Linked DNA regions of Homo sapiens: regions 2 and 3 are each linked to region 1. The links come from fine-mapping of genetic effects on gene expression. A gene starts in region 1. Each other region holds a variant in brackets. All regions are shown on one strand. Distances are from middle to middle. Region 1 holds the start of RNFT1 (ring finger protein, transmembrane 1). Region 2 overlaps TUBD1 (tubulin delta 1). Region 3 overlaps TUBD1 (tubulin delta 1).

The links.
Region 2: its variant is fine-mapped to the expression of RNFT1 in blood mononuclear cells (TOPMed, PIP above 0.99).
Region 3: its variant is fine-mapped to the expression of RNFT1 in whole blood (INTERVAL, PIP above 0.99).

Annotation. Positions count from the first base shown.
Region 1 is chr17:59,960,475-59,968,654 of GRCh38, reverse strand. It overlaps RNFT1 (ring finger protein, transmembrane 1), which reads left to right and starts at 3,915. Exons shown (of 9, transcript NM_016125.4): 1 at 3,915-4,047; 2 at 5,371-5,828; 3 at 6,039-6,115. The coding sequence starts at 3,992. It overlaps RNFT1-DT (RNFT1 divergent transcript), which reads right to left and starts at 3,559. Exons shown (of 4, transcript NR_110815.1): 1 at 3,467-3,559; 2 at 2,188-2,252. It also overlaps the pseudogene TBC1D3P1-DHX40P1. RefSeq lists an enhancer at 3,545-3,814 and a silencer at 3,845-3,974.
Region 2 is chr17:59,869,342-59,877,521 of GRCh38, reverse strand. TUBD1 (tubulin delta 1) reads left to right here. Exons shown (of 9, transcript NM_016261.4): 6 at 2,819-2,983. Among named protein-coding and RNA genes, the nearest start is that of TUBD1, 20 kb to the left of the region's middle. The variant A/C (reference allele first, on the strand shown) is at 4,262.
Region 3 is chr17:59,882,904-59,891,083 of GRCh38, reverse strand. It overlaps TUBD1 (tubulin delta 1), which reads left to right. Exons shown (of 9, transcript NM_016261.4): 2 at 43-253; 3 at 4,854-5,001. The coding sequence starts at 82. It also overlaps the pseudogene NDUFB8P2. Among named protein-coding and RNA genes, the nearest start is that of TUBD1, 5.9 kb to the left of the region's middle. The variant AG/G (reference allele first, on the strand shown) is at 3,145.

The DNA of each region.
Region 1 (8,180 bases):
TGTGAATCCCAATGGAGAAGAATTTTTCAAGTCTCTATTAACATTACAATTGCTATTGTCCCAAGGATCAAAGCAAATCACTTAAATCAGTCTGCGAGGAGACTACCCAAGCATATGGACATTGGTAGGTGTGAAAAATTTGTGTGGGTAGTAGAGGGGGTGACGAGCTTAACTGCAACAATCTAGGACACTTAACCCTACTGATTCTATTTCATAACCTCTCCAATCTCATTCTTCTTCTTGAATCCCACTTCACTGACAAGTTCAAGACCTCATCTTGTTCCTGAACTACTTATAATAGTCTCCTAATGGAGCTTGCACTGCTACTATCAGCATATGAATTTTCTGAAAAACACAAATCCAGTCACACAATTCTGTTGCTTAAAACTCAATAGCTTCCTTTTGGCCATTAGAATAAACTAAGTGAGGCCCACAAACTCATTTTCTAGCTCATACTTACCTGACTTATCTCTTACTACTCTATCCACTCTACTCTTCCAAATACGAAAAACACTCTTTAAAAGACCATGGTATTTCAATACCACCATTTTCCATATAATGTTTCTATCTGCATTGCCCTGTTACTGCTTCTGTCCTGGTAAATATCAACTTATTCTTAAGATTTCATCCAGGAGGCTGAGGCACTAGAATCACTTGAACCCAGGAGGCAGAGGTTGCAGTGAGCCAAGATTGCGCCACTGTACTCCACCCTGGGCAACAGAGCAAAACTCTATCAAAAGAAGAAAGAAAAAAAAAGATTTCATCTTAAATATCACAAATTTAATAAAAGATTTCTTCCCTGACAAAGTTAAATGCTTCTACCTTTTGCTTCCATTGCATCTCACAGAACCTTCAATTATAGTGTTTTCTCCAAAATACTGTAATTATTTGTTTGCAGGTCTAAACATTTCCATCACCATGAGATGGCAACTTTTCTTTTTCTTTTTTTTCTGAGATGGAGTCTTGCTCTGTTGCCCAGGATGGAGTGCAGTGGCATGATATTGGCTCACTGCAACCTCTGCCTCAGGTTGAAGCAATTCTCCTGCCTCAGCCTCCTGAGTAACTGCATTACAGGCGCGTGCCACCATACCTCGATAATTTTTGTATTTTTAGTAGAGACGGGGTTCCACCATGTTGGCCAGCCTGGTCTTGAACTCCTGACCTCAGGTGATCCGCCTGCCTCACCCTCCCAAAGTGCTGGGATTACAGGCGTGAGCCATTGTGCTTGGCCCTAATTTTTATGTTTTTAGCAGAAATGGAGTTTCACCATGTTGGCCAGGTTGGTCTTGAACTGCTGACCTCAAGTGATCTACCTGCTGTGGCCTCCCAAAGTGCTGAGATTACAGGTGTGAGCCATCATGCCTGGCCCGAGACTCTTTATTATGTCTCTCTCTCCAACATCTAGTATTATTCTTAACACTCAGTAAGTACTTGGAAAATGCTTTTTGAATTAACCAATTAAAATTAAAATGTCTATTTCCAACAGTCCAGATGCCAGTGGAAAGAAAATTTATCAGATAATAGCCTGTCACCAAGTCAAATCTTCTCATCAATTCAGTCCTTTCTTTCTTCAAATATGTCACTTTTCAGTCAAGTTACTTGGGTGAAATGCAGCTCCAAGTGCACTAATAAACTTTAAATATGGACTAATATACCTGCAGTGTTATGAGTATGTCAAAAGGAGAATTTTTTTTTTTTTTTTTTTGAGACAGGGTCTCACTCTGTTCCCAGACTGGAGCAATAACGGCTCATTGCAGCCTTAATCTCCCTGGCTCAAGGGATTCTCCCACCTCAGCCTCCTGAGTAGCTGGGACTACAGGCCCTTGCCACAGTGCCCAGCTAATTTTAACATTTTTTTCTAGAGACAGGGTCTCTCTATGTTGTCCAGTCTGCTCTCGATCTCTTGGGCTCAAGCGACCTTTTCACCTCAGCCTCCCAAAGTGCTAGGATTATAGGAATGAACCGTAGTATCTGGCCAAGATGAGAATTTAAACACTACATTTGGTATTCTAAATTTACAAATGTACCAAATGTACTAAAATTATCAGTGTACTAATACATATTGGTGCTGCATTGTGGCTGTGGCTGAATTATGTTATATTCTGTTTTTTTTCCTGTTTCCTAAATGTTCACACATTTTGAAGTTTAAAAATATCCACGACATAGTTGAAATGTTAGAATACTTACACATATCTCCTCGGAAAATTCACTATAGTCTGGAGCCTGGCTCTCACCCTTACTGAACCAGAAATCTGTCAGAAAGATTTAAATTAGTAAGCACAGAGAGACTTAAGTATGCCTTCTACCACCGCCGACCACCCCTACCCCCACCCCCAACAAAAAAAGAAAGCCAATGTGTTTTTTTTTGAGGTGGGGGTCTCCTTCTGCCGCCCAGGCTGGAGTGCAGTGGCACGATTTCAGCTCACTGCAACCTCCGCCACCTGGGTTCAAGGGATTCTCCTGCCTCAGCCTCCCGAGTAGCTGGGATTACAGGCGCCCGCCACCAAGCCCGGGTGATTTTTGTATTTTTAGTAGAGACAGGGTTTCGCCATGTTGGCCAGGCTGGTCTCAAACTCCTGACCTCAAGTGATCCTCCCGCCTCGGCCTTCCAAAGCGCTGGGATTACAGGGGTGAGCCACCACGCCAGGCCTAAACCTTTTTTTTTTTAGACGGAGTGTCGCTCTGTTGCCAGGCTGGAGTGCAGTGGCTAATCCCGGCTCACTGCAACCTCCGCCTCCCGGGTTCAAGCGATTCTCCTGCCTCAGCTTCCCGAGTAGCTGAGATTACAGGCACGCACCACCACACCCGGCTAATTTTTGTATTTTTAGTAGAGACGGGGTTTCACCATATTGGCCAGGATGTGGCCACGATCTCTTGACCTTGTGATCCACCCGCCTTGGCCTCCCAAAGTGCTGGGATTACAGGTGTGAGCTACCACTCCCCTCCTCAGCTTCGTTTTCTTAATGACCTTTTAATTTTAGAACAGTTTTAGATTAACAGAATTTATTTTATTTATTTATTTTTTGAGACCGAGTCTCACTCACTCTGTTGCCCAGGCTGGAGTGCAGTGGCACGATCTTGGCTCACTACAAACTCCACCTCCCGGGTTCAAGTGATTCTCGTATGCCTCAGCTTCCCGAGTATCTGTAGCGGGGATTACAAGTGTGAGCCAACGCCCCCGGCTAATTTTTGTAGTTTTAATAGAGACGGGTTTCACCATGTTGGCCAGGCTGGTCTCTACCTCCTGAGCTCAAGTGACCCGCCCGCCTCGGCCTCCCAAAATACTGGGATTACAGGTGTGAGCCACTGCGCCCGACCTAAACTTCGTTTTCTTAATAACCTTTTAATTTTAGAACAGTTTTAGATTAACATAATTATTTTGAGGGCAGTAGGGTCCTCTATACCCCACGCAAGACAGGTTTTTCAACTCTAACTTCTACTTCCACCCCACGCAGACTCTCCGCACCTCTCTCCTCTCATCTCGGGTTCTGACAAGGCCTGATCCTCACAGCCCAAATTCACGATTGTGAGGAAAGGTCAGCTCAGACCAAACGTCACCGCCCAGACAGACACAACTAGGTCAGGCGTCAAGCTCGCGGACATCCGAGCCCGGAAACCCTAACACTCCTCCAGGGGTAGGTTCTCCAAGCCTGAACATTTTTAACCTCAAAACGCCCAGGATCTCGGAGGCGTGTGGTGGATGCCACATAAATACATAACACATAACAACGACTTATTATTTAGCGCCAGGCCTGAAGGCCGTTCTCAGGCGCAGCTCGCTTGTTCTCGCTGCCAAAACACCCCGGCAGCCGTGAGCTCTCCACTCGGCGCGGTGCGGGGGCGGGGCTAGGAGGTGGAGCCGGGGCAGGGCGCGCGCGCGCGCGTGAGAACGTCCGGGGAGCGCGCGCGCCGCCGCCGTTGCCGCCGGGCTGAGAGAAGAGCTTGCGGGGTTTGCGGTTGATGGCCCCGACTGAAGGGCTGGAGGCGGTGTATGCCGCTGTTCTTGCTGTCGCTCCCGACACCTCCGTCCGCTTCTGGTCATGAGAGGTTAGGCCTGGGGGAAGCGGGCAGAGGAGGAGGCGGCGAGGGGCCGCGGCGCAGGGGGCTCTGGGGAGAATAGGCACTCGAGGCTCGGACGTGGGTGGAGAACTCTGCCCTCGGAGATTCCGGAAGAGTTGTGTTGAATTTTCTTCCCTTTTTTCTCCTCTTTCTTGTCTGTGCATGAAGGAAAGTGGGAGGGTTCTATGTTATTTATAGAAAAGACACTGAAAGCCTGCTGTCCAACGTCGCTCTTCAGTTTTGACGAAATAACACCCGTGGCGTCGGGGCCTCGGTGAAAGCCTTTAGTGAAAAGCACTGAAACCCAAACCGCCAGACACGGTGACTGCACCACTGTTCAGTCCTGGGAGTGAAATAGAATGACACAGAACATTCCCTGACGTTAACTCTAGCCTCCTCCTAGACAAACGGGAAAAGCACGGCAGTGTGGGATAGCCTCTGCGTTTTGTCAGCTGGGATTCCGACTCTGTTCTTCTGTTTCTAGGAGGTCCACACTGGATCATTTATTAGAGAGATCTTTCTCTGCTAGAGTCCTCTTTCCTCACACCCCTCCCTCCGTAATACACACACCACCGACGGTGGCATTTTATTGGGCGGACTGTGTAACTGCTTATTCAGACTAAAGAGTTACCTAGCAATTACGTGGTGACTCTCCAAAGTATCTATGCTTTAAATGTATTTAGGTAACATTCTTTTGCGCGGGGAGGTAATATTATTGGTGGCACCATTAATTATTGGAAACTTTATGAGCTTTGGGAAAGCTGCTTGAGCAGAAAATCTAATTTGTAGGTCACCTAAGTGCAGTGTTTATTATTAGTTACCTATGATGATAATAAGGCATTAAGATTTAATGTTGTTTTTTTTCCTAACATTTCCAACCATTAAAAAATACTGGCTCACTCTTCCTTATGAAACTTCTTTGATGTAGAATCTACATCAGAGATGAAACTGCACCATTTGGGAAAAGTAAATGTACCAGAGTACCCAGTGAGGACTGGTGCTCATTAACATCTGCTGGGTACCCATACTTCATGACTGTTTTGCGGATGCCTTCTGCCATTAGAGAACTGGAAGCATTTGCAGCTCAACTTTTTTTTTTTTGGTGCAAATGTTCCCTAAAAGATCATTTGTGTAGGGCAGCAGAGCCTTGGCATTAAGGGAGAAGGGAGGAGTCCAGTGATAAATAACCTGAAAATTCATCTGTTGTGATTATTTGCTACTCCTTTAGTGAATAAAGGATACCCAGTGAGGAATATACTGCTGGTATTTAACTGCCTGTTTACTTAGAATATCTTTTATTTGATTTTTTAGGAGACAGAGGCCTGAAGCAAAGACATCTGGGTCAGAGAAAAAGTATTTAAGGGCCATGCAAGCCAATCGTAGCCAACTGCACAGTCCTCCAGGAACTGGAAGCAGTGAGGATGCCTCAACCCCTCAGTGTGTCCACACAAGATTGACAGGAGAGGGTTCTTGCCCTCATTCTGGAGATGTTCATATCCAGATAAACTCCATACCTAAAGAATGTGCAGAAAATGCAAGCTCCAGAAATATAAGGTCAGGTGTCCATAGCTGTGCCCATGGATGTGTACACAGTCGCTTACGGGGTCACTCCCACAGTGAAGCAAGGCTGACTGATGATACTGCCGCAGAATCTGGAGATCATGGTAGTAGCTCCTTCTCAGAATTCCGCTATCTCTTCAAGTGGCTGCAAAAAAGTCTTCCATATATTTTGATTCTGAGCGTCAAACTTGTTATGCAGCATATAACAGGTAGGACATAATAAAACATTGACTTGTTTTCATTCCTAAATTCAGTTAATTTTCTTTCATTATTGGTAATCTACTTAATGCATCCAGTTACTTATTTTCTGTGAGCTTTTATTATTGTATATGTTTATTTTTAATTTGTGTCATTGTTAGCTTATATAATCCTCTTTGATTTTTTTTTCTTTCAATTAACTGGAACTTATTTTCTAACAGGAATTTCTCTTGGAATTGGGCTGCTAACAACTTTTATGTATGCAAACAAAAGCATTGTAAATCAGGTTTTTCTAAGAGTAAGTATAACAAGCAACTAAAAAATTATTAACTGTTTCTCTCCATAGATTTTAGAGAAATAATTTTGAGAGAAATAGGAAATAACTTGAAAGAAATAGGAAGTAATAGGATATATTGTAACATCCACGTTATGTTAAATTTGTTATCTAAATCCTGGAATAAATTATCTCTCCTAATGCTGAATTCCTTCACCTTACCTTCTTTGTAAGAAAAAAAAATTGGTTACTGTTAAAGTAGTAAAAAGGATTAAAAGAGTTAGAACACGGTATCTGATCTGATTTGGCAAGTCCCTTCATGTTGTATCAGTTACTTTGACCATAGTAAGTAAGACCATCATCATGAAAAACTTTTAGTGGCTGGGCATGGTGGCTCACACCTGTAATCCCAGCACTTTGGGAGGCCGAGGCGGGCAGATCATGAGGTCAGGAGATTGAGACCATCCTGGCTAACACGGTGAAACCCTGTCTCTACTAAAAATACAAAAAATTAGCTAGGTGTGGTGGCATGTGCCTGTATTCCCAGCTACTCGGGAGGCTGAGGCAGGAGAATCACTTGAACCTGGGAGGTGGAGGTTGCAGTGAGCTGAGATCGCACCACTGCACTCCAGCGTGGGCTACAGAACGAGACTCCATCTCAAAAAAAAAAAAAAAAAAAAAGACCTGGGCCAGGCACAGGGGCTCACGCCTGTCATCCCAACACTCTGGGAGGCCCAGGCAGGCAGATCACCTGAGGTCAGAAGTTTGAGACCAGCCTGGCCAATGTGGTGAAACCCCATGTCTACTAAAAACACAAAAATTAGCTGGGCGTGGTGGCGCTTGCCTGTAGTCCCAGCTACTTGGGAGGCTGAGGCAGGAGAATTGCTTGAACCCGGGAGGCAGAGGTTGCAGTGAGCCAAGATTGTGCCACTGCACTCCAGCCTGGCGACAGAGTGAGACTCCATCTCAAAAAAAAAAAGAGAGAAAATGAAACCCAAGGAATTTTTCCATAACATAAGTTACACGAGCCCGTCATATAAATCATTGGGAAAAAGAGGATGAGTTTCTAAAATTTCACCTTAAGGCAACTTTAAATGGCTATGTCTGTGTAAAGTATCATGCATTCTGACCTGGAAATTTATAGTTAAACCTATCAAACTAGAAAAATCTTAATGATTTAAAATTAGTAAAACTTCATTAAACTTGACTTTAAAAGTGAGATTACAGGCAAGGCACAGTGGCTCATGCCTGTAATCTCAGCACTTTGGGAGGCTGAGATGGGCAGATTGCTTGAGCCCAGGAATTGAAGACGAGCCTGGGCAACATGGCAAAACCCCATCTCTACAAAAAATACAAAAAATTAGCTGGGCGTGGTGGCACGTGCCTGTAATCTCTGCTATCTGGGAGGCTGAGGTGGGAGGATTGCCTGACCCCAGGTGGTTGGGGCTGCAGTGAGTTGTGATCATGCCACTGCACTCCAGTCTGGGTGAAAGAGTGAGACCCAGTCTCAAAAAAGTAAAAAAAAAAAAAGGGAGATTACAACTACTTGGGAGGCTGAGTTGGGAAGAATGCTTGAGCCTAGGAATTCTGAGCAATGTGTCGAGACCCCATATATTAAAAAAGTGAGATTAAAACATTAATTTATTAAATTCTTATAATCTGAGAATTTAAAAAATATAAACCTTGACAAGTGAGTCAAGGTTAAAATGCATTTTGAAATTTTCTTTTGTGGGTGGGTCCATTTTTTTTCTGAGACGGTGTTTTGCTCTGTCACCCGGGCTGGAGTGCAGTGGCGTGATCTTGGCTCACTGCAACCTCTGCCTCCTGGGTTCAAGTGATTCTCGTGCCTCAGCCTCCTGAGTAGCTGGGATTACAGGCACGTGCCACGGCGCCTGGCTAACTTTTGTACTTTTTTTAGTAGAGACAGGTTTCACCATGTTGGGCAGGCTGGTCACAAACTCCTGACCTCAAGCGATCCGCCGACCTTGGCCTCCCAAAGTGCTGGGATTACAAGTGTGAGCCACTGCCCCCGTCCTGGGTGGGTCCTTTATGTCAGCTTGTAGAAGACCTGGCTTCTTTTTTTTTTTTT
Region 2 (8,180 bases), 91 kb after region 1:
GCGTGAGCCACCGCACCCGGCCCTAGCCTTTTCTTAAGTACAGCAGCCAGACTGAACTCTGGCTTTGCAGTTTTTAAAAGCATAAGTCAGATCCTGTTGCTCCCCTTTTCAGAACCTTCCTGAGGTTTCCCATCTCATCCAGAGTTGTCAATGTGCGCGTCAGCATTGTGTTTGGTGATTGGGAATTCAAAGAGGTCCGAGTCTGCCATGTGGCATGACTTTCCGTAGTTGTGCTCTGACAGAGAAGGTGAGGAGCAGGGTTGGCCGAAGACTGGGATTTTGCCAGAAAGAGGAAGACTGATTGATTGAAAGGCAGGTGCTCCATGGATTAAAGTCTCAAGGAGGTTTAAGAATGGTCAAGGTGGCCAGGCGTGGTGGCTCACGCCTGTATCCCAGCACGTTGGGAGGCTGAGGAGGGTGGATCACCTGAGGTCAGAAGTTTGAGACCAGCCTGGCCAATACGGTGAAACCCCAGCTCTACAGAAAATACAAAAATTAGCCAGGCATGGTGGTGGGTACCTGTAATCCCAGCTACTCAGAAGACAGGCAGGAGAATTGCTTGAACCCATAAGGCAGACGTTGCAGTCAGCTAAGATTGCACCACTGCACTCCTGCCTGGGCGACAGCGAGACTCCATTTAAAAAAAAAAAAAAGAATGGTTAAGGTAAGAGTAGCTGAACAAGAAAGCTGGAAGGGAGAACAGATTGCAACAATTAGTGATTCATGCATTGGCCGGGCACCATGGCTCACTTCTGTAATCCCAGTGCTTTAGGAGGCCAGGGTGGGAAGATCGCTTGAGGCCAGGAGTTCGAAGCCAGCCTGAGCAGCATAGCAAGACCTCATCTCTACTAAGAATTTAAAAAGTGGCCGGGTGTGGTGGCTCATGCCTGTAATCCCAGCACTTTGGGAGGCCAAGACGGACAGATCACCTGAGGTTGGGAGTTCGAGACTAGCCTAAGTAACATGGCGAAACACTGTCTCTACTAAAAAAAATACAAAATTAGCCAGGCATGGTGGCACATGCCTGTAATCCCAGCTACTTGGGAGGCAGAGGCAGGAGAATTGCTTGAACCTGGGAGGCAGAGGTTGCAGTGAGCTGAGGTCATGCAATGCACTCCAGCCTGAGCAATAAGAGCGAAACTCCATCTCAAAAAAAAAAAAACAAAAAAAAAACAAACAGTTAGGCATGGTGGTGTGCACCTATAATCTCAGCTACTAGGGAAGCTGAAGTGGGGCTATTGCTTAAGCCTGGGAGTTCGAGGTTGCAGAGCTTTGATTGCGCCACTGCACACCAGTTTGGACAACAGAACAAAACACTGTCTAAAAAGAAAAAAAAAAGAATTCATGCCTTAGTGCTCATGAATTATTTTCTGACTATTCTATATTTACTTGTGCTATGCAATAGAATTCAACTCTAGGTATTTTACAGAAAAGAATTCTACATTTAGAGGACACTCCATTAGCACAAGCCCGCCTGTGTAGCATCTTATAGATGTTTGTGTCAAAATTTGTTCTTTTCTTTAGGATGTACATTATGAGTTTGTACTCAGTGTTATAAAGTTTGTTTCATATTATGGTAATATATTTTTCCCTATCCTCAAGGTATTTTCTATAAACATATGAGACAGCTGTAAATGTAAAGGAAAGTACCCTTTCTCCTTAATTCTATTTCATTGTAAATACAAGTTTCTAAAGATAGGCACATTCCTATCTTAAGGAATATCTAATCTTGTCTTCTTTCCAAATAGAGTTTCATGTTAACTTTTTTTTTTTTTTGAGACAGAGTCTTGCTTTGTCGCCCAGGCTGGAGTGCGATGCACTGCAACCTCTGTCTGCCGGGTTCAAGCGATTCTCCCGCCTCAGCCTCCCAAGTAGCTGGGATTACAGGTGCCTGCCACAACGCCTGGCTAATTTTCATATTTTTAATAGAAACAGTGTTTCTATTAAGACCAAGACCATGTTGGCCAGGCTGGTCTTAAACTCCTGACCTCATGATCTGCCCACCTAGGCCTCCGAAAGTGCTGGGATTACAGGCGTGAGCCACCGTGCCTGGCTTATATTAACTTTCATGTTAACAGGGTTTGATTATCACCTAACCAGATACGGTATGTAAAAATCTAGTAACATTTCTAAAAGAGTATTTAGTAGGGTGGGTGCGGTGGCTCACACCTGTAATCCCAGTACTTTGGGAGGCCAAGGCAGGCAGATCATGAGATCAGGGGATCGAGACCATCCTGGCCACCATGGTGAAACCTCATCTCTACTAAAGTACAAAAAGTTAGCTGGGCTTGGTGGTACGTGCCTGTAGTCTCAGCTACTCAGGAGGCTGAGACGGGAATCGCTTGATCGTGGGAGGCAGAGGTTGCAGTGAGCCGAGATCACGCCACTGCACTCCTCCAGCCTGGCGACAGAACAAGACTCCATCCCAAAAAAAAAAAAAAAAAAAAAGAATATAACAATATTTAGTGAACATAGAATGACAAGAAAAGCATATCAGTTCTCATGTTTACTTTGTTTGCCTGGAGTTTACCTAAATATTTCATTCACATTTCCAGTTATTCAGCTTCTAAATTGTAGTTTGCTTTTTGGCAAAGTGTATTTTCTCACTCATGCTCAAGTCAGTGCTAAAATGAAGCAAAGAGGTGGTGTGTAATAGACATTGTCTCTGAAATTGTATTTATATTAAAGATTAAATAATTCTGGTCTGAGAAGAGAAAAAACATTTGGCCCAGAAAACCTTCAAATCATGGTTATATATAGACTATTGGCAACAATGTAGAATAAAAAAAAATTAGTTCAGATTTTTTTTTCTTTACAGGAGACTTAATGGAGCATTTAGTTCCCCATCCTGAATTCAAGATGCTGAGTGTTCGTAACATTCCTCACATGTCTGAGAATTCATTGGCATACACCACATTTACTTGGGCTGGCCTCCTCAAGCATTTGAGACAGATGCTCATTTCTAATGCAAAGATGGAAGAAGGTAAAGAGTAGTCCAAAAATATGCAGCCCACAAGCTGGAAAAAATGTCTGTCCTGGAGTCTCAATATAAACTGGCTTGGACCAGTTTAAATAATGGTCCCTTTTTCTGGCTAGAGAGACTCCGGCAGAAACTCACCAGGACATCTTAGGAGGGTTTCTTAATCACTTCACAGTTTCATTACCAAAAGACATTTCAAATGAGTGCCAGATTTTTTTTAAATTTTTATTTTAATCAAATAAGTGAACATAGTTTTAAAAATCAAGTAGCCAAAACTCATTTAAATATATACTTAAATCCATACATTGCACTGTATTTAAATTATATCTCAATTTTTTTTTTTTTTTTTTTTTGAGACTGAGTCTTGCTCTGTCGCCCAGGCTGGAGTGCAGTGGCGTGATCTCAGCTCACTGCAACCTCCGCCTCCCGGGTTCACACCATTCTCCTGCCTCAGCCTGCCGAGTAGCTGGGACTACAGGCGCCTGCCACCACGCCCGGCTAATTTTTTGTATTTTTAGTAGAGACGGGGTTTCACCGTGTTAGCCAGGATGGTCTCAATCTCCTGACCTCGTGATCCACCCGTCTTGGCCTCCCAAAGTGCTGGGATTACAAGAGTGAGCCACCGTGCCCGGCCAATTATATCTCAGTATTTTATTTTTTATTTATTTTATTTTTTTGAGATGGAATCTCGCTCTGTCACCCAGGCTGGAGTGCAGTGGCGCGATCTCGGCTCACTGCAACCTCTGCCTCCCGGATTCAAGCAGTTCTTCTGCCTCAGCCTCCCAAGGAGCTGGGATTACAGGCGTGTGCTACCATGCCTGGCTAATTTTTTTGTATTTTTAGTAGAGATGAGGTTTCACCATATTGGCCAGGCTGGTCTCGAACTCCTGACCTTGTGATCCACCCACCTCGACCTCCCAAAGTGCTGGGATTACAGGTATGAGCCACTGCGCCCGGCCTATATCTCAGTTTTTTAAAAGGTCAAGTAATGGGCCAGGTATGGTGGCTCATACCTATAATCCTAGCACTTTGGGAGGCCAAGGCAGGAGAAGCGCTTGAGCCCAGGAGTTCGAGACCAGTCTGGGCAACATGGCAAAACCCCATCTCTACAAGAAATATAAAAAATTATCTGGACATGGTGACATGGGCCTGTATTCCCAGCAACTTAGGAGGCTGAGGTGGGAGGATCACCTGAGCCCAGGAGGTCAAGGCTGCAGTGAGCTGTGATCACACAACTGCACTTCAGCCTGGGTGACAGAGTGAGACCCTTTCTCAAAAAAA[A/C]AACAACAACAAAAAACAACTTAAGTAATGTCTGGTATGAATTTATGACAAGGAAAAACAGCAATCCTACACCTCCCCATTACACAGATGAAACTACTTTCAACGTCTAGCTATTTCATCTACAATTTGCCTCCATAGTTATAAATGTCTTACTTATATTGTTATCTCTTGCATTCCTAGTGTGAAAATTGAGAATTGGCCTGGGCGCAGTAGCTCACGCCTGTAATCCCAGCACTTTGGGAGGTTGAGGTGGGTGGATCACCTGAGGTCAGGAGTTCGAGACCAGCCTGGGCAACATGGCGAAACCCCTTCTTTACTAAAAAATACAAAAAAATTAGCCGGGCGTGGTGGCAGTCGCCTGTAATTCCTGGGAAGCTGAGGCAGGAGAATTGCTTGAACCCGGGAGGCAGAGGTTACAGTGAGCTATGATAGTGCCATTGCATTCCAGCCTGGGTGATAACAGTGAAACTCCATCTCAAAAAAAAAAAAAATTGAGAATTGAATCATCTTACACCCCCTCTACACACACAGACACACACACACACACACACACACACACACACACATTCCCATTTTCATATATATACTGACACATGTGCACACTCACACACATACTCACACATACAAACACAATTACCTTCATTCTTCTAACATACTTGGGAGTTAGATCAGTTTTCAATGTTTGTACTACTTTTGCTATCTAAATATTATTCAGAGTAGAGCCTTGTGTACATAGATTATATTTTTTTGTGTGTACAGTTTATTTTTCCCTCCTGGAGTTGTTAATCATTATATTTATTCAGTTGATATTTTCTGTACCTATTACCAACTTATCCTGAAACTTTTCTGTAAAAAAATGAATCCCTTCTCAGATGTGATGGCTCACACCTGTAATCTCAGCACTTTGGGAGGCTAAGGCAGGAGGATCGCTTGAGGCCAGAAGTTCAAAACTAGCTTGAGCAACAAAGCAAGACCCCATCTCTAAAAAAATAATTTAAAAAAATTAGCTGGCCCGGCAGGGTGGCTCACGCCTGTGAGCCAGCACTTTGGGAGGCCGAGGCGGACAAGTTCAGAAGATCGAGACCATCCTGGCTAACACGGATGTAGTAGAAACCCCATCTCTACTAAAAATACAAAAAATTAGCGAGGCGTGATGGCACACACTTGTAATCCCAGCTACCCAAGAGGCTGAGGCAGGAGAGTGGCTTGAACTCAGGAGGCAGAGGTTGCAGCGAGCTGAGATCACACCCCTGCTCTCCAGCCTGGGCAACAGAGCGAGACTCTGTCTCAAAAAAAAAAATGCTGGGCATAGTGGTATGCACCTGTAGTCCTAGCTACTTGGGAGGGTGAGGCAGGAGAATCCCTTGAACCAAGGGATTTGAGTTTAAAATGAGCTGTGATCATGCCACTGCACTCCAGCCTGGGCAACAGAGCAAAACCCTGTCTCAAAAATAAAAAAAAAGAATTCTTTCTTAATATGTTTAAACCCATCAGGTAAGTGATTACTTCCATTATCTGCCTAGAGACATCTTCTGGAAGGCATTTATCTTCCCATTCCATTCTGGACTGACTGCTCTCTAGGCTTGATAAGCAGCCAGCCCTGGCATCTCTGCTTGCCTCATCCTGATTTATATCTGTACCTCCTAGATTTCAAATCTGCTTTCTTGATTTATTCCCTCATATTGATGGACCATACCTTTCAGGAGCTCCCTAAGAGAGTACAAGGAAATTAAAATGTTTGAGGCTACAAATATCTTCATTCTGGCCGGGTGCAGTGGCTCACACCTGTAATCCCAGCACTTTGGGAGGCCAAGGCAGGTGAAACATGAGGTCAGAGATCGAGACCATCCTTGCTAACATGGTGAAACCCCGTCTCTACTAAAAATACAAAAAATTAGCCAGGCATGGTGGCGGGCGCCTGTAGTCCCAGCTACTCAGGAGGCTAAGGCAGGAGAATTGCTTGAACTTGGGAGGCAGAGGGAAGTTGCAGTGAGCTGAGATCGTGTCACTGCACTCCAGCCTCGGCGACAGAGCGAGACCCTGTCTCAAAAATAAATAAATATCATAATTCTGTTCTGCCATTGCATTTGAATGATAGTTTGGCCAGGGATAGGATTCTAGGTTGGGAATCATTTTCTTTTTACTGAGTATTTCGAAGCCATTGCTCTATCATCTTCTCACTTGCAGCGTTGCTGTTGAGAAGTCTCAGGTTGTTCTGATTCCCAATCCTATTTTGTTATCTCTTGAAGCTTTTAGGATTTTCTCTTTGTCCCCAGCATTCTGAAAGTACTTGACATGGGTCTTTGGTTTATCTCAGTAGAAGGTAAGCTTTATTTAATCTATTTGGTTTACTGTTGCATCTTTGGAGCCTGGAACGGTAAACGCTCAGTGATTATTTGCTGAGTTAGTTGCTCCGGGCACTGAATGGACCCTTACGGACATTGCAGACTTGTGTGGGTTTCACAGTAAGGTGATCTGCCTGGCCATTTTATTGCTGGACTTCCAAATATCATACTCAGCGTATCTTATCTCTTGATCAGTTGCTTCCTCCTCCATCTCTTTCCTGAAGGCATGATAAGCCTGGCTGCCAGCCTTTTCAGAGCTGGACGGGGAAGACATGGACTGTTACACTTTCCTGCGAAAGCTGCTACTTCGTGACCTGGTTTTCCAAAGGTTCTCTACAGGGCTGTGCCAGGTGTCACTGAGGCCAGAGCCTCCCAGGTTTAGCCTTTTCACAGCAGAAACCTTCTAGGGTGGAAGAGCGCACTCCTCCTACTGCAGGGAGTGGGGAAGGGGCTCTCACTGCTTCTCAAATAGATTTTTAGTTAATCCTCCTGTATTTTTACACTTTGATTTTTTTTTTTTTTTTTTTTTTTTTTTTTTTTTTTGTGAGATGGAGTCACACTCTGTCGCCTAAGATGATGCAGTGGCATCATCTTGGCTCACTGCAACCTCCACCTCCCAGGTTCAGGTGATCCTCCCACCTTAGTCGGAATTCCAAGTAGCTGGGATTACCAATGTATGAATGTGTACTACCACACCTAGCTAATTTTTGTATTTTTAGTAGAGATGGGGTTGTATCATGTTGGCCAGGCTGGTCTTGAACTCCTGACCTCAAGTGATCCACATGCCTCAAATTCCCAAAGTGCTGGGATTACAGATATAAGCCACCGTGCCCAGCCTTTTTTTCACTTTGAAAAGTGTCTGGTCTACTTCCAGGACCTCAATTGTGGGCAAAATTTTTAGCTTTTTCTTGTTGTGCAGTCAGTAACCATTTGCTCTCCAGCTCCAAAATTTTGTTGCTGTTATATTCTCTCCTGTTCCTTTTTTTCTTGTTTGTGCTTATCCTTTTAGTGATTAAGCAGGATCTGGAGAGAGAGTGGCAGGAAACTGATATGCTCAGTCTGTCATGTGTAACTAGAAATCACTACTAGGTATTAATAGCATATATTATACCACAAATTAAGTTAGGCTTTTATACTATGAGAGTAGATTTTCTCAACATTTATTTGTAATATCTTACGGATTTTAGATTATAGTGCCAGAGGTTTGGAGATAAGTAGAAAGTTTACATGTAAAAATAGTGCTTCCTGAATTTTTTGGCCATAGTACCTGTTTTTCGAGCAATACCTGTTAATACCACAAGGAACACAATGTTCCTTAGAGTCATGTGAGACATGCTGCTCTGAGCTCTCTTAGGTCAATAAACCACAGTTTGCTGAGTTCCCATGTGGAACTTTTAGGGTGTCAACATTTTTTCTTTTTTCTTTTTTTTTTTTGGCGGGGGGGACAGAATCTTGCTCTGTCACCCAGGCTGGAGTGCAGTGGCGCGATCTTGGCTCACTGCAACCGCTGCCTCCCAGTTGAAGCGATTCTTTTGCCTCAGCCTCCCAAATAGCTGGGACTACAGGTGCGCACC
Region 3 (8,180 bases), 78 kb after region 1:
AGTAATGTAGTGGTTCTCAAAGCGTATTTTTTTCGATTACAGGTTGTTTTTAGAGGTAATACACCTAGTTTGTGGCTCAGCATGTCAATTGTAACAGTGCAACTTGGTCAGTGTGGCAATCAGATTGGTTTTGAAGTTTTTGATGCTTTGCTTAGTGACTCACACAGTTCCCAGGGACTCTGCTCTATGAGAGAGAATGAGGCATATCAAGCATCTTGCAAAGAAAGATTCTTCAGTGAGGAGGAGAATGGAGGTAGGTGTGGCCCACAGTCCTCTCCTTTACTCTGATCTAACCAACCCCTTCAAAGCCAGGCCTTCCACATGGTTTTTAAACCCCATTCCTTCCCATCTCACTAGGGAATTACTTTGTTTTTGCTTTTCATTTCTATGTTAATAATCTTTGCTTTTCCAGTGGCATTTTCCCTTCTGCATGCTCAGATCTCACCAATTTAAAACCAACCAAACAAAACTCATCTATTGACTGGCTTTCTTCTTCTTATCTCTTTGCCTTTCATCTAAGATTCTCAAAAGAGGACCCTGCTGGCTGGGCGTGGTGGCTCACGCCTGTAATCCCAGCACTTTGAGAGGCCGAGGCGAGTGGATCACAAGGTCAGGAGTTCAAGACCAGCCTGACCAACATGGTGAAACCCCATCTCTACTAAAAATACAAAAATTAGCTGGGCGTGGTGGCATGTGCCTGTAATCCCAGCTACTCGGGAGGCTGAGGCAGGAGAATCACTTGAACCCAGGAGGCAGAGGTTGCAGTGAGCCGAGACCGCACCACTGCCCTCCAGCCTGGTGACAGAGCGAGACTCCATCTCCAAAAAAAATAAAAGGACCCTGCTTAACCACCTATGATCCTGCTTCTGCCCCACATAGCATCATTGAAGCTGCTCTAAGAAAAGTTTCCAGTGACCTCCGAATCACCAGATCCAACTACTGTTTTTCTTTTCTTTTTTTCTTTTTCTTGTAGAGACAGGTTCTTACTACACTATGTTGCCCAAGCTGGAGTGCGGTGGCTATTCACAGGTCTCCTGAGTAGCTGGGACTGCAGGTGCATGCCACCATGCCTGGCTCTTTCTTTTCTCTGTCTCTCTTTTTTTTTTTTTTTTTTTTGAGAGAGTCTCGCTCTGTCACCCGGGCTGAAGTGCAGTGATGTGATCTTGGCTCACTGTAACCTCCACCTCCCGTGTTCAAGCAATTCTCCTGCCTCAGCCTCCCAAGTAGCTGGAATTACAGGTGCCCACGACCATGTCTGGCTAATTTTTGTATTTTTAGTAGAGACAGGGTTTTGCCATGTTGGCCAGGCTGGTCTCGAATGCCTGATCTCAAGTGATCCGCCTGCCTTGGCCTCCCAAAGTGATGGGATTACAGGCTCTCTTTCTTTTTCTTTTTCTTTTTTTTTTTTTTTTTTTGAGACAGAGTCTAGCTCTGTCACCCAGACTGGAGTGCAGTGGTGCGATCTTGGCTCACTGCAACCTCCGACTACCAGGTTGAAGCAATTCTCCTGCCTCAGCCTCATGAGTAGCTGGGACTACAGGCATGCGCCACCACGCCCAACTAATTTTTTTGTATTTTTAGTAGAGATGGGGTTTTACCATGTTGGTCAGGCTGGTCTCGAACTCCTGACCTCAAATGATCTGCCCACCTCAGCTTCCCAAAGTGCTGGGATTACAGGCGTGAGCCACTGTGCCCAGCCTCTCTTTCTTTTCTTAATTCACTTTACTCCTCTACTGCGTTTGATAACAGTAACGTATAAAAACTCTTTCCAGCAGGGCGCAGTGGCTCACGCCTATAATCCCAGCACTTTGGGAGGCCAAGGCAGGCAGATCACTTGAGGTCAGGAGTTAGAGACCAGCCTGGCCAACAGGGTAAAACCCCGTCTCGACTAAAAATACAAAAATTAGCCGGACATGGTGGCACATACCTGTAATCCCAGTTATTCGGGAGGGTGAGGCAGGAGAATCACTTGAACCCGGGAGGGGGGTTGCAGTGAGCCGAGATCTCGCCACTGCACTCCAGCCTGGGAAATAGAGCGAGATGCCGTCTCAAAAAAAAAAAAAAAAAAAAAAAGCCAGGCATGGTGGCTCATCCCTGTAATCCCAACACTTTGGGAGGCCGAGGTGGGTGAATCACCTGAGGTCAGGAGTTCGAGACCAGCCTGGCCAACGTGGTGAAACCCCATCTGTACTAAAAATACAAAAATTAGCCGAGCGTAGTGGTGCGTGCCTGTAATCCCAGCTACTTGGGAGGCTGAGGCAGGAGAATCGCTTGAACCCGGGAGTCGGAGAGTGTGCCATTGTACTCCAGCCTAGGTGACAAGAGCGAAACTCCGTCTCAAAAAAGAAAAAAAAAAGACAAAAAACAACTCTCTCCTTGAACCTCCTTCTCCTAGTCACCCCACTTTTCTTCTCCAGTTGTTGCATCTCCCCTGTCCTCACTTGCATAGTTCTCTCTGGGCAACTTCACTGTCATAGTTTGCTACATTTATTACACCTGTGACTTTCAGACCTCTAGCCCAGCCTCTCTTAAAAGCTCTAGACAGATTAGTGGATATCTCCACCCACATCTCTCATATGAACCTGAAACTCAACATCTCTATTCCCAAGGCATTCATTATTGTTCCTTGTGCTCTTGCTGCATACATACCATCAAACAAGATCTGCTTATTTGACCTCCTATATACTCCTTGAAACTGTTCTTCCCTTTCCACCTTCACTGACTTGCTTTAGTCTGGCTTTTGTTCTTTCTTACCTGGACTGTCTCAAGACACTCCTTTTAGGATTCCTTGCCTGGAGTCTACTGTCTATCACATCCATCCTCCGTACTGCTGTGTTTAAAAAGACATCGGCCGGGTGCAGTGGCTCATGCCTATAATCCCAGCACTTTGGGAGGTCGAGGCGGGCGAATCATGAGGTCAGGAGATCGAGACCATCCTGGCTAACACAGTAAAATCCCGTCTCTACTAAAAATACAAAAAAATTAGCCAGGCGTGGTGGCGGGTGCCTGTAGTCCCAGCTACTTGGGATGCTGAGGCAGGAGAATGGCGTGAACCCAGGAGGCGGAGCTTGCAGTGAGCTGAGATCGCACCACTGCACTCCAGCCTGCGGGACAGAGCGAGACTCCATCTCAAAAAAAAAAAAA[AG/G]ACATCTAACAGCTGGGCACAGTGTCTCACTGTAATTCCAGTGTTTTGGGAGACCAAGGTGGGAGGATTGCTTGAGGCCAGGAATTCAAGACCAGCCTGGGCAATAGAGCAAGATTCTGTCTCTAGAAAAAAAAACAATAAAAATTAGTTAGGTGTAATGGCACACACCTGAAGTCCCAGCTACTTAGAAGGCCAAAGTGGGAGGATTGCTTGAGCTCAAGAGTTTGAGGCTGCAGTGAATTATGATTGACAGACATTTAACTATTCCTCGCCTGCTTGAAAATTTTTGGTGGTTAATCATGGCCTAAAAGATAAAGTTCAGGCTTTTCTAGCATTGCCTATAAAGATTTCCAAGATTGAGCCCTACCTGCTTTTCATCCCCATCCATCACTTCTACCCTCTCCTTCTCCATCCTCTGCTCCAACAATTCTGAGCTGGATGTTGTACCCATGGTACTTTGTACCTCTAAATATGATGTTCCTTTGGTGTGGATTTATTTGGTCATATCACGTTGCAGTGTGATTAAGTATTGATGTATTTATCTTTCCCACAAGTCTTTTTTTTTTTTTGAGACAGAGTCTCACTCTTGCCCAAGCTGGAGCACAGTGGTGTGATTGCAGCTCATTGCAACCTCTGCCTCCTGGGTTCAAGCAATTCTCGTGCCTCAGCCTCCTGAGTAGCTGAGATTACAGGCACACGCCACCAAGTCTTGCTAATTTTGTATTTTTGTTTTTTGTTTGTTTGTTTGTTTTGAGACAGTGTTTTGCTTTTATTGCTCAGGCTGGAGTGCAATGGCTCAATCTTGGCTCACTGCAACCTCCACCTCCCGGGATCAAGCAATTCTCCTGCCTCAGCCTCCGGAGTAGCTGGGATTACAGGAGCCTGCCACCACGCCCAGCTAATTTTTTGTATTTTTAGTAGAGATGGGTTTTCACCATGTTGGCCAGTTTGGTCTTGAACTCCTGACCTCAGATGATCCGCCCGCCTCGGCCTCCCAAAGTGCTGGGATTACAGGTGTGAGCCACCGCACCTGGCCAATTTTGTATTTTTAGTAGGATCGGGATTTCACCATGTTGGCCAGGCTGGTCTCCAACTCCTGGCCTCAAGTGATCCACCTGCCTCAGCCTCCCAAAATGCTGGGATTACAGGCATGAGCCACCACGCCCAGCCTCCCACCTGCCCTTTCTAAGGCTAGTTTGATGTCTTCATCTCCAAATTCCCAGCACAGTCCATGGCACATCATAAGCATTCAGCATATGTTTGTAGACCTGACCCAGGTACTCTTTTTTTTTTTTTTTTTTTTTTTTTTGAGACAGAATCTCACTCTGTCTCCCAGGCTGGAGTGCAGTGGTGCAACCTTGGCTCAGTGCAACCTCCGCCTTCCAGGTTCAAGCAGTTCTCCTGCCTCAGCCTCCCGAGTAGCTGGAATTACAGGCACATGCCACCACGCCGGCTAATCTGACCCAGGTACTCTTTTAGGCCCACACTGATTCAGCCTGCTTAGCAAATGCTGGGCTTGGTGAACATCTGCATATGCCTGCTGCTGCCCACTGAGATTTCTAAGCAGTACGACAGATCTTTCTAACCACAACCCCTGGAATTTTTTTTTTTTTTTTGGATTTGGACACTTAGATGCTCTGAGTTACCCAAATAAGACATAATAAATCTTTTTTTCTTTCGATGTTTTTGGGTTTTTTTCCCCCTCTAGTTCCAATTGCCCGGGCTGTTCTTGTTGACATGGAACCCAAAGTTATCAATCAAATGCTGTCAAAGGCTGCCCAGTCTGGCCAATGGAAATATGGTCAACATGCATGCTTCTGTCAAAAACAAGGTTCTGGAAACAACTGGGCATATGGGTAAGAATAATTTCTTGTGATTTTCAGTTTAGTGACAGCTACACAGTCAATTAATAGATAGCAAAGTTAGAACTGTATAGTTGATATACCAAGCACATAATCTTGAAATTGCTGTTTTAGATTTAGAATTTTATTTTACCCAGAAGAAACTTTCATTCCATGCCTATGTCTGTACTTAAGGTACAGGTAATGTTGAAATGAAGGATATCTTTCAGCAGGGTTTTCCATCTTCTCACTGTCATGCTGCAAACTAACTTACCAATGTAATGTCCATATCTGGCAGATATCTCAATGATAGAGAATACTACAAGACAGTAGTTCCCAAACTTTGCTGCACATTAGAATTTCCTGAGGTTCTTTGGAAAAGTCCTGATGCCTAGGGCTCACTTTGAGAGATTCTGATTTTTGTTTTGTTTTGTTTTGTTTTTTTAACCACAGCACTGAGTTTTATTAGGGATTTCATTAAGGTTAAATTTCTAGGAATGAGGGAATCCTAGTTAGAGGGCACAAAAGCCCACGAAGCCTCCTCAGATCTAGTAGTGAACCACCGACTCAGGTTCTTTGGAGGGATCACCGCCTCGTTCCAGGTACAGATTATTGTAAGGATACTGCTTTGGTCCCACGGGCTGGTAGACAGGGTACATATCCCCCACCCAGAACATGAATATCATGAGAGCCATGAAGCCGAACAGCTGCATACACATGACATTCCAAGAAACAGGTGTGGGGGACATATTCCTGGTATACATGTCTAGCTGCCAGTGCATCGGTTCACCCCAGTTCAATCTCAGGTCCAGCTGGTCCCAGCTATACCATGGATCCCTCTCATGCAGGGAGCTTTGGGTAGTCGCCATACCCCATGTCATCATCCGGGTAAGGCTCGTAGTCTCCCACACACATGTTATACTTCTTGAGGGCAGTGGCCTGTCCTTTTGGCGTCCTAGGATAGGACCCTGAGAGCATGTCATTGGTTATGCGGGAGGCTGTCCTTGCGCCCAGCGGCACCACTTTCTGGGATGCCCTTTGCATCCACTGGACTCCCAGGACCCTGGCCCTGGCCACTGCCATCTTCACCTTCACATTTCCCTTCTGCTGAGATTCTGATTTAAGTGGTTTGGGGTAAAGCCCTGATGTTGGGTTTTTGGTGTTTTTTTTTTTAAGAGACAGAGTCTCGTTCTGTCACCCAGGCTGGAGTGCAGTGGCATGATCTCGACTCAGTGCAACCTCCATCTCCTGGGTTCAAGCAATTATCCTGCCTCAGCCTTCTGAGTAACTGAGACTACAGGTGTGCACCACTATGCCCAGCTAATTTTTGTATTTTTTTAGTAGAGACAAGGATTCAGCATGTTACCCAGACTGGTCTGGAACTCCTGGCCTCCAGTGATCCACCTGCCTCGGCCTCCCAAAGTGCTGAGATTACAGGTATGAGCCACTGCACCCAGCCTGATGTTGGGATTTTTTATTTTTTTGAGACGGAGTCTCGCTCTGTCGCCCAGGCTGGAGTGCAGTGGCGCAATCTCAGCTCACTGCAACCTCTGCCTCCCAGGTTCAAGTGATTCTCCTGCCTCAGCTTCCCGAGTAGCTGGAATTACAGGTACCTGCCACCATGCCCAGCTAATTTTTGTATTTTTTAGTAGAGACGGGGTTTCACCAGTTTGGCCAGGCTGGTCTGGAACTCTTGACCTCAGGTGATCCACCCGCCTTGGCCTCCCAAAATGCTGGGATTACAGGCGTGAGTCACTGCGCCTGGCCTGATGTTGGGATTTTTTAAAGGTCCCTAGGTGACTTTAATGTGCAGCAAAATTTTTTTTTTTTTTTTTTAAGACAAGAGTCTTGCTCTGTTGCCCAGGTTGGAGTGCAGTGGTGCAATTTCGGCTCACTGCAACCTCTGCCTCCCGGGTTCAAGTGATTCTCCTGCCTCAGTCTCCCGAGTAGGTAGGACTACAGGCACATGCCACCACGCCCGGCTAATTTTTGTATTTTTAGTAGATACTGGATTTCCCTATGTTGGCCAGGCTGCTCTCAAACTCCTAACTTCAAATGATCCACCCACCTCCGCCTCCCAAAGTGCTAGGATTACAGGCATGAGCCACTGTGCCCAGCCATGTGCAGCACAGTTTGAGAACCACTGTTTCAGGACTGTTAGGAATATTAAATGTTATACTGTATCATAAACTTGTAGAACTACCTGGTATCAAAACTTGTAGAACTACCTGGTACCTACCAGGTAAAGGAATGGCCACTACTCATGCCTGTAATCCCAGCAATTTGGGAGGCCAAGGCAGGAGGATCGCTTGAGCCCAGGAGTTCAAGTCCACCCTAGGCAACAAAGGGAGGCCCTATCGCTACGAAAAAATTTTAAAAAGAAATTAGCCAGGTGAGGCCAGGCACAGTGGCTCACGCCTGTAATCCCAACACTTTGGGAGGCCAAGGTGGATCACTTGAGGTCAGGAGTTTGAGACCAGCCTGGCCAACATGATGAAACCCCATCTCTACTAAAAATACAAAAATTAGGCCTGTTGCAGTGGCTCACGCCTGTCATCCCAGCACTTTGCGAGAGGCCGAGGTGGGCAGATCATCTGAGGAAAGGAGTTTGAGACCAGCCTGGCCAACATGGTAAAACCCTGTTTCTACTAAAAAATAGAAAAAATTAGCTGGGCGTGGTGATGGCTGCCATCCCAGCTACTCGGGAGGCTGAGGCAGGAGAATCGCTTGAACCCAGGAGGCAGAGGTTGCAGTGAGCCAAGGTCACACCATTGCACTCCAGCCTGGGCAACAAGAACAAAACTCCATCTCAAAAAATATTAAAAAAAAAAAAAATTAGATGGGTGTGGTGGCCTGTGCCTGTGGCCTTAGCTCCTTGGGAGGCTGAGGCAGAAGAATCACTTGAACCTGGGAGGCAGAGGTTGCAGTGAGCCGAGATTGTGCCACGGCACTCCAGCTTGGGCAACAGAGTGAGACTCTGCCTCAAAAAAAAGAAAAAAGAAATTAGCCGGGCGGCTGGGTATGGTGGCTCTCGCTTGTGATCCCAGCAGTTTGGGAGGCCAAGGAGGGCGGATTACTTGAGGTCAGGACTTTGAGACCAGCCTGGCCAACATGGTGAAACCCTGTCTCTACTAAAAATACAAAAATTAGCTGGGCGTGGCGGCCTGTGCCTGTGGTCCCAGCTACTCGGGAAG